Linked DNA regions of Homo sapiens. The protein of the gene in region 1 interacts with the protein of each later gene in a pairwise test. Each region holds a gene or a part of one and is shown on either strand. Other genes may lie near its edges.

The links. The genes of interacting proteins can lie anywhere in the genome.
Region 2: the proteins of FAM110A (region 1) and KRT39 interact in binary tests that used the Homo sapiens proteins (3 or more experiments, as listed by UniProt).

The regions. Positions count from the first base shown.
Region 1 is NC_000020.11:843,681-846,777, reverse strand, and holds the end of FAM110A (protein FAM110A), read right to left. Parts: intron 2,136-3,097; exon of another isoform or gene 2,071-2,135; 5' UTR 1,974-2,070; coding exon 1,086-1,973; 3' UTR 501-1,085; downstream 1-500.
Region 2 is NC_000017.11:40,963,919-40,971,423, forward strand, and holds the start of KRT39 (keratin, type I cytoskeletal 39), read right to left. Parts: upstream 3,031-7,505; 5' UTR 2,939-3,030; coding exon 2,471-2,938; intron 611-2,470; coding exon 528-610; intron 1-527. UniProt on the Homo sapiens protein: May play a role in late hair differentiation.

The DNA.
Region 1 (3,097 bases):
CCAAGATCGCCAGGGAGGCCACTCATTTTGTGCCGTCCACCCCAAGTCTCTCTTCCTCCAAAACTCCCACTTCTCATCCTCACTCTATGGTCTGTGTGACCTCAAGTTCAGGATTTGCCCTCTCCGAGCTTCCTGCCCCCTTGGGAACTGGGCAGGGCTTGGATGGAACACTCCTGGTTGGGGAGAGTCTATGCACCCCATCGGCCTTTCCCCTGCAGGCTCCCTTTCTGGTGCAGGGGAAAGACCCCATTCCTACTCCCAGCTCTATTCCAGCTCACTCATGGCTGGATCTCAGTTTCCTCCTCGATGAGGCAGGCCTGCTAGCCTTCCAGGAGAGTTATGAGAACCCACCACGGGGACATGTCTCCAGCCAGGCCAGCCGCTATCATCATGCCCCACCACTAGACCTCGGGGTGAACAATTACTGTTTTGATGGCCCCACCCCAAGACTTCTCTCACCCTTTCTCTTGTGAACACAGAAGAGTCTGAAGGCCCAGCCCTTGAGAAACAAGCATTTGTGTTTATTAACCAAGGAGAGGGAAGTCAAAGCAATGCAGACTCCTAACCAGTCCCTCCTATAGTCTGCCCACCTAGGCCAGCTGCCAAGGACTAGGAAGAGCAGTGGATAGGCCCCTCCCCACTGCCCCGACCCCAGGGTGAGTTCTGCTGGGTAAGGAAGAGGAAGTCAGCAAAGGACAGAGGCCAAGGAAGGAAGGAGGAAACAGAGCCGCTGGGGAGACAGGATTGAGGAGATCCCTTGGCCCCTCACTCACAGTGGGGAGGGCAAAGCACCGCAAATGCAGCCCCACAAGAGGAACTAAGCAGGAGTACACTCATGTCAAAAACCTTGTATTGGGGGAGGGGAGGAGGGGGTTCTCAGGTGTCCAAAGCCAAGAACAAAACCCTTGGAGAGTCAGTCCTTGCCCAACAATGCTGGTCCAGCCTCTAAGCCTTTGCCTCCATACCAAGTTCACAACAGGGTGGAGCCTCTGACACGGCCGTCTAGAGAATGGATGCAAGAGAGGTCCAGGGACCACTTGCCTCTGTAAGATCCGTCCTGTGGCGAATTCCAGGCCCAGTGGCGCCTAGCCTTCAGCTGCTGGGCTCTCCCGAGCCTGCCTTAGCCCATACAACCACTTGATCACGCGGGCATTGCGCTCCACCACCGACACGCCATAGGGAACGCGCTCCCGGGCCCGCTCCTCAACAGTCACCGAGCTGCGGCGGGAGCAGCCCCCTTCAGAGCTGCCCGGCCCAGCACTGGGCCCTGCCAGGGACACGATATCCGAGCTGGCCCGTGCCAGGTGGGCCACACCCAACCCTCTCGCCTCCTCCGGGTCCAGGCCGCAGAAGTTAAAAAAGCGCTCGAGATCAGCGGCTGCCCTAGAAAAGCGCTCGCTCAAGTCCGACTTGGAGCGTTGCAAACCCGGCGGCCGGGCTGGGCTGGAGGCGGCGGCAGGGCCGGGTGATGGGCAGGGCCGGGCAGGCGAGGCGGGCAGGGGGCGGACGTCCACCCGGCGGACCGCAGAGGTACTGGGCGGCGGTCGCGGAGGGGTGGCTGGGGGAGGACGGCCGGCTCCCTCGGCCCGTCCAGGAGTGCGGCTGGCCTCGGCAGGGGACACGGGGCTGTCACACAAGTCGATGAGGCTGCTGAGGATGTCCAGGTCCAGCTGGGGCCGTCGGCAGGGGCCAGGCAGGGCTCGGCGGCTGGGCGTGAGCACTGTGCGGCGAGTCTCAGGGCTAAAGAGCGGCTGTTTGGACAGCAGGGGCTGCACAGGCTCCTGGCGGGTGTTGGCCACGTGCAGGCTCTTGACGTACTTGGCCTTGTCGGCCTCCAGGCGCTCCACAGCGCTCGGTTTCCGGGCTCCACCATCTGCCGGCCCCCGTAGCAGGTAGCCAGGGACCCTGGTCCGCAGGCGGCAAGGTAGGGCGGGGGCGGACGGGGCTCCGGGGCTCAGCGTGTGCACAGGCATGGCTGCTGCATATCCCGAGGGCTTTAGTCTGCGGAGACCGGAGAGATGAGGAGCCAGAGATCCGGGCAGAAAGTAGGCAGCTGGACACCGGCCACTGCTGCAGGGAAGGAGAGAGAAAAAAAAAAAAAAGCCGAGCGCGCTCAGACAAAGAGGCTCAGCCGCGGCTGAGAGGATAAGACGCCCTCCCTATTATAAGGTAGAGACCACGCCCCTCCACAAGGAGCCAATCAGCAGGCACAAGGCAGCAGCTGCGGGGCCTCAGGCCCCACCCACACCCCCTCCCTCCTGCCCCGGGAGAACCAGGCCCAGCTGAGACCAAGAGAGGAAAAAAGGTGCTAGAGAAAAAAGACCTGGGCGACCTGGGCAACCTGAGCAGAAAAGACAGGGCAAGGCACGCGCTAAAGGGAGCAAGGGAGGCTCCAGGCTCTGTGCTACGCACCAGTCAACTCAACCTCAGGTCCTCTCAACAGCCCCGTTTTTTGGATGGAGAAACTGAAGCCCAGAGAGGCAAACAACTTGCTTAAGTTAACCCAGCGAGTAGGTGGCTCTGCCCCTGACCACCAAAAAGGAAGGTGCTGGCACCGGGGCGTAGGGTTAAATGACCAAGAAAAAGGGCTCCAGCCCCACACCCCACCTGGACTCCCCACAGGGAGCCTGGTACCACCTCTACCCCTCACCCATCCAGGCAGGAAGCTGCCCTGTGCCATCCACCCGCCTAGACATGCCAGGCCCCAGGCAAAGGGCAGAGCTTATAGGGAAGGAGCAAAGAAAATCTCCACCCGCGCCCCAGTGGAGTCCAGACATCCGTCAGCTTCCTGCATGGAACTGGATGGCCCACGGTGATCCACAAATGCCTGTCACGTGGAAACATCAGCCCTGAGCTATGCTGTGCTGAGAGAAGCTGGAAATGTCCAAAATCACACAGCCCTGCATGGAGGCATCCGGCAGACCCTCGATCTGCCTGCAGCCATGGAATGGGTACTCACCTGGGAGGAGGGCATACACCTGGATGCACAAGTGTCTACGTGGTCACCCAAGTGTCAGGACCTGATGCCCCAGACATCAAGCCAACCCTGACCCTGTTTCCAAGGAAGGGCCAAGCCCACAGAGTCACCCCACAAGGC
Region 2 (7,505 bases), on another chromosome or scaffold:
GGTGAAACCATTTGATATAGATCATAACTTAATTATTATTCCCAAATTAGTTTGCTAGGGGGATCTACATTGCTGTTCTTTGAGATATGGGAATTTATTGTCCTTCCTCTGCCCCTAGTGGCAATGCAATGTAAGTGAAGAAAGCACTGGATTAGGGCTCAGAAAACATGTGTCCAAGTTTCGGTTTTGACTTGTGCTAGTTATGCTTACCTTTGGGTGAGTAACTTAGCCTCACTAAGCCACAGATTTCTCACCTTAAAGAGAGTAACAATATATTAGTCCTATCTATTTTACTGAACTATTGTGTAGGTAATCAAATGGGTTCACAAGTTAGAAACTATAGGTACTGTATACATGTGAGCAGTTATTAATCTTAATCATTCATTGAATTTGAAAGTCTTTTCTGGGCTTGTGCCAACATCATCTGGGGCAAGAGGGTTAGTAGACATGGGGACAATTTTGTTGAGGGCATCTCGGTCAGACTCAGGGTGAGCTCTGTCATTGATGACGGTGTTGGGTGGGCTTACTTGGCTCTCAAGTCATCTGCAGTCAGTTTGGTGTTGTCAATTTGCGAGACCAGTCTGGAATTCTCGGCCTTGGTACACAAGATCTAGAATTAAGAGATTGTACACACAAATGAAGCAAACACCAAGATTTCCTTCTTTAAGAACCAAGGGGTTTGTGTGTGTGTCAAGTAACAGGGGAAGGCTAAGTAGACTTTTTATTAATCTTCATAGCTATGCTCACAAAGCTTGGAAAACTTCAGAAAGTCAGATTTCCTGTTATTTTCCTAAAAGATCAGCAAAAAGTACTTAACTAGAAACTTTTAAGTATTTTTTTTGTTGTTGTTGTTAAAAAATCCAGGCTGAGAGCAGTGGCTCACCCATGTAATATCAGCACTTGGGAGGCTGAGGCGGGCGGATCACGAGGTCAAGAGATCAAGACCATCCTGGCCAACATGGTGAAACCCTGTCTCTACTAAAAAATACAAAAATTGGCCGGGCGCAGTGGCTCACGCCTGTAATCCCAGCACTTTGGGAGGCCGAGGCGGGTAGATCACGAGGTCAGGAGATCAAGACCATCCTGGCTAACACGGTGAAACCCCGTCTCTACTAAAAATATAAAAAAAAAAAAAATTAGCTGGGCGTGGTGGCGGGCGCCTGTAGTCCCAGCTACTTGGGAGGCTGAGGCAGGAGAATGGCATGAACCCAGGAAGCGGAGCTAGCAGTGAGCCGAGATCGCGCCACTGCACTGCAGCCTGGGAGACAGAGCGAGACTCCGTCTCAAAAAAAAAAAAAAATACAAAAATTATCTGGGTGTGGTGGTGCGTGCCTGTAGACCCAGCTACTAGAGAGGCAGAGGAGGGAGAATCGCTTGAACCTGGGAGCTGGAGGTTGCAGTGAGCAGAGATCGCGCCATTGCACTCCAGCCTGGTGACAGAGTGAGACTCCATCTCAATAAATACATAAATAAATAAATAAAAAATAAAATAAAATCCATCCTAAATTTATATAAATACCATGATCCACTAGAATGTCAACTCCATGAGGGCAGGGACTTTTTAAAGGTCACCAATATTTTCCCAGAATCTAGAACAATGTTTGGCCCAATGTTGTTGCTGCTCAGTAAACATTTGTTGAATGAATAAAACTGAATAAATCCAGATATGTAGTAGCAGAATACGTCTGTGCATAACAAACTTAGGTTTGGTGTAGAAACAAACCAAGCAATGTGGAGATGATAACATAAGCATAAAAGGAGAAAAAGGTGGTGATGGTTGAAAAATGGATAAAAACTAAATTGCTTAGAAACTCATTAAAGCAAAATTTATTTTCTCTGATCTCTGTTTCCCTATTTTTATTTAAAAAATGGCAACAACTTGCTGTTAACATCTTTTGGTCCTGAGTCATCTAGTTATAATGGTAGAGTGTATTTCTGGAGAAAGGAAACACCATGAGACTCTTCTTTTTGTTTCTGATTTTTAAAGACATAGTCTCACTTTTGTCTGGGCTGGAGTGCAGTGGCAGGATCTTGGCTCATGGCAGCCTCAACCTCTTGGGCTCAAGTGATCCTCCCACCTCAGCCTCCCAAGTAGCTGGGACCACAGGCATGTGCCACCACGCCCATCTAATTTTTTTTTGTGTGTGTATGTGTGTGTGTGTGTGTGTGTGTGTAAGGATGGAATTTCATCATGTTGCCCAGGATGGTCTAGAACTCCTGGGCTCAAGTGATCTGTCTGCCTCAGCCTCCCAAAGTGTTAGGATTACAGGTGTGCATCACTGCGCCTGACCAGAAATACTATCAGACTCTGAATGCTGCCTCAAGATGACAATTTCACTCAAGAAATTTTTCTATTCTTCAAAAAAATTTTCAGCATCAACTGAACAAAAAATATTAAAGTTTAGCAAATAACTGTTGCTTGGAAACCATTAATTCACAACACGATTAAACAGGTTCTTAGGAATCTTACCTTCTGCTGGAGCTCCTCAATGGTAGTGTAGTAAGACAGGTAATCAGGACATAGAACAGGGAGCTCTTTGTTACTTTCTTCCTGGATTTTAGATTCCAGTTCAGCATTCTCTCGTTCTAGCATTCGCACCTTTTGCAGGTAGTTAGCAAGGCGCTCGTTCAAGATTTGCATGGTCTCCTTCTCATTACTGTTGATGCCTTCACCATACCAGCTGCAGTCATCCAGAGAAAAACGGGCATTGAAGTTGTTCATTAGGTAGATGGGCTTGCGACAAAAGCGAGGAGTGGGTTGGCAGCCCTGGTCCCAGGGAATTCTGAGAACGTGGCCAGCTGGTTGACAGTTGTTGACTGTAAGGCCACCAGGATGGCAGCCGTTGTTAGAAGAGATGGTACTAACATTTGTAATCCTAGAGCAGTTTTGACATGGGGTTGAAGGAGAATTGGTTGTTGTACAGCCCTTGGTGTCCATAGTATGTGTCTGGCTTTAGTTTGTTCCAGGTCTGTGGTCACCAGGATGAAAAGCTCAAGCCACCTCCACAGAGTCTGAATTCCAAGGCTCTTGGTGTTTTCCTCTTTGAAGTGCTTATATAGCCTCTCTTCTACGTGGTGTCACACAGGTGGGATGTTTTCCTTTCTCAGGTTTATATCAAATCCTGTAGGAACATCTTATTAGTCTGCTTTTTACTTGCTTAAGAAGAGTTATTTGTCTCATAAACATGTGCATTTAGGCTGTTAGTAAGTTATTACCCATCATAACTACTACTTGTCTATTGGACCCAGAGCTTCAAATTATGTCTTCAAAAGGAACTGTCCTAACAGCATCCATTATTAAGCAGGTGTGAGTATACTAAGTTCATTACATTCTTGTTGACCTCTCCACTTGGCACTGAGCTTAACCAGGAATGAGTTCATCCTTCTTTTCCTTTCTTCTCTAGAAAAGGGAAACTATTAATGTTTAATAATTATTGGTAAACTTAGAAATCAGAAGTCAATATTTTAGTTTGTTCTGCCCAAATGGTTTCCCCATTTTCAGTGTCAGGACAATGTGAGTATGAATTAAAATGTTAGTCTTTTAAAAGTCTTGTTTTAAAGATAATTGCTAGATTTATGTTTTAGCTTTCCATAAAATGTAATAACATAAAATAAAATATAAATAAAATATGAAATAAAATAAAAGCCATGGGGAAAAGGTAGGGTTTGATTGCTAATAAGAAATTTCTTGGAAAAGAGACTAGCTCTCTTTTGGTTTTCCAAAGTCCACATTTTATAACATTTTTAGTGCTTGGTGTTTGCTTGTGGTATTACATTAGATAAAAATGTATCACAGTGTTGGTTTATACTGGATGTTTAAATAGGATTCATTGAAAGGGGTGTGTTTTCTTTCTGAGGAATACTTACTCAGCATTTTCTTCAGAAAGTTACTTGCTGCTAATCCTTTATGGAGGCTCTAGGGGAACATCATTTTCTTGCCTTTTCCAGCTTCTACAGGCTGTCCACATCCTCAGCTAGTGGCCCCTTTTCATCCTTTTTTTTTTTTCTTGAATTATGAGATTTTTTGTACTTTGAGTTCTGGGATACATGTGCAGAACGTGCAGGTTTGCTACATAGGTATACAAGTGCCATGGTGGTTTGCTGTACCCATCAACCTGTCATCTACATTAGGTATTTCTCCTAATGCTATCCCACCCCTAGCCCCTCACCCCCTCACAGTCCCCGGTGTGATGTTCCCCTCCCTGTGTCCATGTGTGCTCATTGTTCAACTCCCACTTATGAGTGAGAACATGCAGTGTTTGGTTTTCTGTTCCTGTGTGAGTTTGCTGAGAATGATGGTTTCCAGCTTTATTCATGTCCCTGCAAAGGACATGAACTAATCCTTTATTATGGCTGTATAGTATTCCATGGTGTATATGTGCCACATTTTCTTTATCCAGTCCATCATTGATGGGCATTTGGGTTGGTTCCATGTCTTTGCTATTGTGAATAGTGCTGCAATAAACATACATGTGCATGTGTCTTTATAGTAGAATGATTTATAATCCTTTGGGTATGTATCAAGTAATAGGATTGCTGGGTCAAACTGTATTTATGGTTCTTGATCCTTAAGAAATTGCCACACTGTCTTCTGCATTGGTTGAACTAATTTACACTCCCACCAACTGTGTAAAAGTGTTCCAATTTCTCTCCATCCTCTCCAGCATCTGTTGTTTCCTGACTTTTTAATGATTGTCATTCTAACTGGTGTGAGATGGTATCTCATTGTGGTTTGATTTGCATTTCTCTAGTGACCAGTGATGATGAGCTTTTTTCATATGTTTGTTGGCCACATAAATGTCTTCTTTTGAGAAGTGTCTTTCTATATCCTTAGCCCATTTTTTTGATGGGGTTGTTTGTTTTTTCTTGTAAATTTGTTTAAGTTCCTTGTAGATTCTGTATATTAGCCCTTTGTCAGATGGACAGATTGCAAAAATTTTCTCCCATTCTGTAGGAGGCTGAGGCAGAAGAATTACTTGAACCCAGGAGTTCAAGTTCAGGTGGGCAACACAGTGCGATTTCATTTTTAATAAAATAAAATAAAATACAAAATAAAAGCCATGGGGAAAAGGTAGACCGTTATATGTATTATATGTACTTTGGGGACAATTTTGTATTCCCTTTGGTGTGGGGGCAGGGAATGTTGAAACCATACTTCATCCTTTACAGTGGGACGAATTACAAGTAGATCAAAGATTGAGATATGAAAAATAAATAATAAATATGCCCAAAAGGATAATTATTTTATAAATTTGGAGTCAGAAGACTTTTCCAATGATGACTCAAAATTAAGAAGCCGTAAAAAACTGTTAGATTTGACTCCATAAAATAACAGTGTTTGAACTTGTGCTTGGGTGAAAAATACAACCTGTAAAACCAGAAGACAAGATGACAAACTGGGAAACAATATTACAATTACACTCTAGACAGTGACCAAAAGGAAAATACAAAAGGCACTTAAAATAAGAAAAAATGCTCAATGTCACTCATGAAAAGAGAAATGTAAATTTAAATTATACTGAGATATTTTAGTTTTCCACCTATCAAACTGAAAAAAATCAAAGTTTGATAACAGATACATTCACTGCCTATAGCACTCTCATTGCTTGTGGCAATGAAATGTAAATTCATGCAAGTTACTATAATGCTACTACAATTAAAACAGTGTGATATTGGCATAAGGGTTGGAAAGTAGATCAATGAGAAAGAATATAGAGTTTAGAAATAGACTCACATATATGTGGTCAATTGATTTCTGACAAAGATCCCAAAGCAAGTCAATGAGAAAAGGAAAGCTTTTTCAATACTGTTTTTTCAATACTGTTCAATACTTGTCGCTGAATCAAGTGGATACTTGTATAGCCAAAATGAATACATCTTGATCTCTACCTCACGCTACGTATAAAACTTAATTCAGGTTGGATTAAACACTTAATTGTGAAGATTTCAAGTCTAAAGTTTTTAGAAGAAAACTCAGAAGATTATATTCATAACCTTCTGCCATGAGAAGACTTCTAAGCTCATGGAGGACACTATAATAAATAGATTAGACTTCATCAAAATGAAAACCTTTTGTTGATCAGATAAATAGCTAAGAAAGTGAAAAGGCAAGCTACAGCCTGGGTTAAAATATTCTCTCTCTCTCTTCATACACCCACCCCCCAACGCACACATTAGAACACATACATACACAACGTCATATCTTTTGTAACAATGGGAATATATTCTGAGAAATTCACCTTTAGTGATTTTGTTGTTGTGTAAACATCACAGTGGACTTCATGAACCTGGATGGTATAGCCTATAACACACTTAGGCTATATGGTATAGTCTATTGCTCATAGGCTGTAAACCTGCACAGCATGTTACTGTACTGAATACAGTAGGCAACTGTAACACAATGGTAAGTATTTGTTATCTGGAAACACATTTAAACATAGAAAAGGTACAATAAAAATATGACATTATAGTTTTTTGGGACAGCTTTTGTATGTGTATGTTCCATCATTGTTGACTGAAATGTCATTATGTGGCACATGACTCTATAAATAAATATGTGTATAAAAATAAATAAACACATATTTATTTATACAGTAATATACTATCTCTCTCTCTCTCTCTCTCTCTCTCTGACAAAGGACCTCCCCCAAGGACCTAGCAATTTCATGGTTAGGTATATGTCCAAGAGAGATGAATGTATATATTTTATACACACAATAATATTTGCACAAGAATGCTTATAGCAGCTATATTCTTAATAGCACTAAAATAAAAATAACTGCTCATAAACAGAATAATGGACAACAAACTGTGACATGTTTATGTAATGGAGTAGTATGCAACAACAATAAAGAATGAACTGCCGGTACTCATGACACCATGGAAAAATCTCAAAAACATATTGAGCTGAAGAAGTCAGGCACAAAACAGTACGAACAGTATGACTACATTTATATTAACTTCAAGAACAGGCAAAACTCATCTTTGACATGGTTAGAGATAAGAGTAGTGGTTGTCTCTGTCAGAGAGATGTACTGGCTGGAAAGCAACAAGAAAGAATTTCTAAGGTTGATGTTCTACATTTTGAAATGCTATTCTGTATCTTGATCTGGGTGTTGATTACACAAATTCATGTGCTTTCAAACTCCATGAAGCTGCCTACTTTTATTTTTATTTTTAGACACAGGGTCTCACTCTATTGCCCAGGCTGGAGTTTAGTAGCATGATCATAGCTCACTGAAGCCTTGAATTACTGGGCTCAAGTTGTCTTCCCACCTCAGCTTCCCAAGTAGCTGGGACTACAGGCACATGCCACCATGCCTGGCTAATTTAAAAAAATTTTTTTAGAGATGGGGCCTCATTATGTTGCCCAGGCTGGCATAAACTCCTAACCTCAACTGATCCTCCCACCTTGGCCTCCCAAAGCACTGGGATTACAAGCGTGAGCCACTGTGCCCAGCCTGACCTGCGCACTTTCAATTGATGCATCTTATTGTCTGAAAATT